2 separate regions of the Homo sapiens genome follow, and region 2 is linked to region 1. A link means that fine-mapping ties the variant in region 1 to the expression of a gene that starts in the linked region. Tissue or cell type: pancreas. Region 1 holds a variant in brackets; the other region holds the start of a gene. All regions are shown on one strand. Distances are from middle to middle.

Region 1 (2,691 bases):
ATAACCAATTCTGTCTAGAAGTACTGAATGGCTTCACAGAGGACATAACATTTAAGCTGGGTGGGAATTTAAAGGAACAAGAAAGGGGACAACTCTACTGATGGAGAAAAAAGAGTTCAAATTTGAGAGTTCTCTTCTGATCTTCTTTATGTTCTTGGTGAAGGGGAAGGCTCAGTAACTTGCTGACATGAGTAGGTAAGCACAATGGTAAAGTAAAGATTTAAAATAAGCACTGAAAGGAAAGAGAAGGGAACTGTGGACTGCTGAGCAGTGCTGAAGCAGGTTCTAAGTGTACTTGAAAACATTGATCTCAAGTGGTATTTGTCAGCTCTACCAATGTAATTTTCTCCAGCAGCCCTAGGCATTCCCAGGGCAGGGCTCTGACAAAGCAATGGTTGGATCACATGTATGCCTACCTAACACTCAGTAGATTAAATTATATAAGAAAGCAAACCCGGTGCTTCATTTCCAACAGAATATATTAGTGATCTTTAGTTCTCAGATAAAATAGGGGGTTTGTTCCCCAACTCACCATTTTGCATTTTCTCTGTTAACACTTAAGCCAGTGCCTGAGTAGAGAGTGGTTCTGTTCGTCGGCTCTTCAGCCCAAAGAAGCTGACTTGGGTCTAAGGCAGAGACGGGCAGGTCAGCTCCAACGCTGACGAGGACAACTGGAGTGTCTGAGGCAGTAATGCACTGATCCTCAAGAGGGAGAGGGGGGGCCAGAGGAGAAGGTGCTGGAGCCACAGGGGGTGGAGGGACCATGGACTTGAATTTGCCTGTGTTCTGCTCCTCAGCTCCAGGGACAGTCTGTTCGAGTTTGAAACTCTCCACTCTGGTCTCTGCAGGCTCTCCTTTCAGGTCGGATGTGCCAGAAGTTGTTGTGTCTGAGGACAGGTGAGAAGTTATTGGCTGCTTGTCAGTTTTTCTCTTGCCCTTGGTGGTCCCCACTGTCCCTGCTTTGCTAGAAACTGTCTCCTTTGAAGCTTTGGGACGAGATGAGGTGGATGAAGTGGATGGCGAAGCTGATGCTTTAGAGCCAGTTGTTTTTTTTGAATGAGAGGAGCCAGCTA[C/T]AATAGAGAGACCTTGCATTAAAAAATCAAAGAATACAATGCTTTTTAAAATAAAGTAACCAAGGTGTAACTGTCAACAACATTTAAAATGTTCCCTTTAAAGTTTGTTGAATAAATGTATAAGAGAAAATAGGCTAATCATGATAATAGTCTTGTCTTCTGCCCCTCCCTTCCTCCAATCCAGCAAGGAGCAAGTGATATTTACGGCAAAACTCAGAGGAACAAGAGTCCTCTGTCTTCTCTCACTTTAGTCTTTAGCTGAGCCAGCCAAAGGGAGAATCTTCTGCCCCTTGTCTATGGTTCACTTGAAAAAAGCCCGGTATGCTCTCAAGAAGGAATGTTATGGTGCGTAAAGGACAGACATCAGCAGCTAGCTGGGTGTAGCACACAATTAGGCTCATCATAAATTATACATGTTCTATGCTGTCTTTCTAGGAATAGAGTGGTGGCCTGTATTCAGAAGAGACTGGGGTATATATCCAGCTTCTTTCTGGGTCAAAAACAAAATCACTCATCTTACTGCTAAAAGAGAAAATCCACACCAGCTTTCCAGTAGCTCCAGAGAAGAAAGCTCGCCATGCTGGACTCTACTTCCATCTGCAGTAGAGATGGGGTAAAGGGAAAACCCATGGCCACACAGGAAAGGTACACTCCCTTCAAAGCATCAAAAGGCCAGAAAAAAACTTGTTGTTTACAAAACCTATTTACATGGGTTGCTCCTTTTTTTTTTTTTTTTTGAGACAAGGTCTTGTTCTGTCGCCCAGGCTGGAATGCAGTGGTGCAATATCGGCTCACTATAACTTCTGCCTCCTGGGCTCAAGTGATCCTCCTGCCTTAGCCTCCTGAGTAGCTGGGACTACAGGTGTGTACCACCATGCCTGGCTAACTTTAATGTATTTTTGTTGAGACAGGGTTTTGTCATGTTGCCCAGGCTGGTCTTGAACTCCTGGGCTCAAGGGATTCACCCATCTCAGCCTCCCAAAGTGAGAGGCTTTGGTGGCTCCAAAGAATTACAGGTGTGAGCCACCGTGTCTGGTTCTAAATAATGTGAATGGAAAGGATATCATTCTCAGGTCTTCTGACTCCACCTTCGCAAATGTGATCTTCCTTAATGCTTAAGTTCCAAGAAGGTCTTCATCGAAGGATAGCTATGGTATATTTGCCTACTTCCGGATAGGGCACCCTCAATCAAAACAGTTTCAAAACAAAAAGATTAACTACTTTTTTCTTTATGTCATCTTAGTAAATATATGATGATAAAATAAACTCCTATGAGAATACTCTTTTCTTTCATGACCTATAAATTTATCCTAATGGCTTCTTCTGTTATAATGTTGTTATGCTCCTTCTCTTCATGAAGGGTTCAACTATCTTTCACAGAACGATTAGAAAACATCTTGTTAGCATTGTGAAGCCAATCCACACTGTATACAGATGTTATTATAACTTACCTCCAGTTATGACTTTATTGAAGTCAATTGGGAGGGTGAAGAGATGAAGAATAAATGAAAGAATAGACAATGAGATGTAAGACTTCATTTATTCTGATTAGACTGATACTAAAGAAGCCAGTCTTATTTAGTGACAGGTTCCAGGCTTAAAAGGAATCCCTATGGTT
Region 2 (2,691 bases), 87 kb after region 1:
AAAAACCTTCCTCTGTACCCTGTCATTTCCTTTCAGCAAGATCCTGTTGATGTTTGCACAATTTAAAAAGTGTATCAAATATCTCAATGAGTAACATAAACGGTCCCTTCGAGTATTATTTATTTTTAATCGTTGATGGAAAAATATCAAAATAGTACCTTTTAAATTTATTTCCTTATCCAATCACAAGTAACACCACCAAACAGTTTTTTTTTTTTTTATCCCTACACTGTCGGGGAAATGCCAGACGTACCTTCCTTCCCTCTTTTTGTTTAAGAAAATGGAAAAAAGAAACTTTTAAAACAGAGCATTAGAACTCAGACACGTTACACACGTCTCCATAAAACTAACTTTAGTCCTGGAGAACTAAGTTCATGAGATATGTTTCCCTAAATGTTATAGCTGCTGTATCTACTATAAACAAAACAAGTCTCATTTGAAACAATTACGCATTTCGGGGCTAGTTATTAAGTATTCAGCGTCTGCCAGGATAAGGCGATCAGCGCTTCTACTCCGAATAACAAACCATAAATCAGTTGACAAGCTTGAAAGCATTCAGTCCTAGTCTGTTCGGAAGCCAAGCGTAAATACAGAAAAACCTGTTGGCATGTTTCTCTTGCTCTCTAAGTTTCGCGTTTTTAAAAACACTGTAATACGCAAATGGCGTTTCCCGTAAGTTTCTGGCTCCGAAATAATTTGGATAAAAAACCACAGCGAGGCATCGCGCACAGAAAAATGGAGCCTGTGCCTTTAAGGTAAAATCGGCTGGATCCCAAAAGGCATTCCTCTTTCACGACAAAGAGTTTGGCGAGCGCTACCTCTGGGGTTTCTCCGAGGGACTTGGCGGGTCCGAGCGGAACCCGACCAGACGACTAACCCTGCCTGCCCCGGGGCCCCGCCGCCAGCCCTGCGCCCGCGCGGCGGGAGCGCATCGCGTGCGCCCCGGACTCACCGCTGCCGGGCTGCGGGGACAGCGTGGACACCGAGGTCTGGCCCATGACTGGGGTCGCAGGGCCAGGTCCAGCGATCAAGCGGCTCCTTTGGTCCTTCGATCATGGGTCCGCTCCCAGCCAGACTTCCAGGCGTTCATGTCCCGGCCTGTGCCGAGCGGCCCGCCGGGTCCCCTCACCTTCTACCCCGCGCGGGTCTCCCAGCCCGGCCGGCCGCAGCCGGCGCGGCGGATCCTGCCCAGCGGATGCCTGTCATTCCTCTATGCAGATTAGCTGGGGTCAGGGGTCACGGGGGAAGAAGGGGGGTGAGGGCGATAGGGAGGGGAGGAGGGGGAAGCGGGGGGAGGGCGCAGGAGCAGGGGGTGGGGGAAGCCCCCAGCCGGCCCCGCCGCACCCGCACCCCCTCAGGGTGGTAGGGAGTTCAGGCTTTCAGACTACTCCTCTTTGACTTAAAAGGTTCAAAGTCAAATGATCCTTACGGGCTACAAGAAAAGGAATTAAAGTATTTAGTCACGGTACTTAATTTAACAAAATTTGTTTCTTAAAAGTTATTTCCTTCCTTACATTCTATTTGCAGTATTGTGGCACTCTCATGTCTTGTGCCCATTTTTTTCTCGTTTTAAAAATTATCTTCCTTTTAACAAATATAATTTTTTAAAAACGGCACTAATGGCCTCAATCAGGCTTGACAACAAATCTAAATGGTAGGTCTACGTGTGAGATCAACAAAATATACTTTTTGCTGTCTCCCACCTAAAACTCTGGAGTGCTGACCTCTCCTTTATTTCAAAAGAATTACTGTGAAATAAAGTGATTAAAATACACAAAAGGGGAAAAAAACTATAACAAACTTGAAAGGTGAATTAAACCCTTCTATAATATCCTGTTAAATCTCAATCTTCTTAAAAATATGAATACAAATAAATATTCTTCATATTTACAGTTAATGATTAATTAGTATAAGTAATCTTCATGCTATATATATATAATGTGTGTATATATATATACAGTATATGGAACATCTGTATATGGTGCATTAGATTGGATGGTGGTTACTGGATGTGTTCATTTTATGAAAATTCATTGAGATGTCTGTAATGATGTGTGCACTTTGCTGAAGGCATATATTTCATTAAAATGTAAAAAATATCAGAAAGTGCAATATATTTAGGTCATTTACCACAGCTTTCATTTTTTAATTTATCCTAGACAATCAACTCTGAACTAACATGAAAATCATTTTTTTCTAAAATTTTTATTATTAAGATCGTGCAGAGCCTTGTTTGATTTTTTTGAAAGGCACTTACTTGTCTGTTTTGTCATGGTTAATTAAGTTGCCCTATGTTTTTTCACACCCAAATAGCCCACCCACCACTGTGAGGAAGATCTTTTCCCTAAAAAAGTGTGATCCATTGTCTTCTTCCCTTTGCCTAATTCACTCTTAAGAAACACTGATTTTTTTTTTTTTAATGAAATTGAGGATTTAACCAAAATGTGAGTTCTAATTAGGACAATAAAATTAATCCTAACTACATTTCCTTATAAATACAAAAATGTGTTTTGGAAACACATCCCACCTGGGGCGCTAAGCGATGAGAGTAAGCAATTATAATGGCTGGCTCCTCCAGCTCTTTGCTTTGAGTTGCCGTAAGAAAAAAACAAACAAACAAAAGTGGTTAAAGGTAAGTTAAGAGGGAGAATGTTTCACTCTTCCTTTTGACAGTCTTTCTGATAAAGGGAG

Evidence for each region. PIP is the estimated chance that this variant, and not a neighbour inherited with it, causes the effect.
Region 2: it holds the start of PHACTR2, and the variant in region 1 is fine-mapped to the expression of PHACTR2 in pancreas (GTEx, PIP above 0.99).

What each region holds. Positions count from the first base shown.
Region 1 is chr6:143,763,640-143,766,330 of GRCh38, reverse strand. PHACTR2 (phosphatase and actin regulator 2) reads right to left here. Exons shown (of 13, transcript NM_001100164.2): 6 at 533-1,070. Among named protein-coding and RNA genes, the nearest start is that of LTV1, 78 kb to the left of the region's middle. The variant C/T (reference allele first, on the strand shown) is at 1,074.
Region 2 is chr6:143,676,471-143,679,161 of GRCh38, reverse strand. It overlaps PHACTR2 (phosphatase and actin regulator 2), which reads right to left and starts at 1,197. Exons shown (of 13, transcript NM_001100164.2): 1 at 953-1,197. The coding sequence starts at 998. RefSeq lists a silencer at 956-1,255 and an enhancer at 1,005-1,853.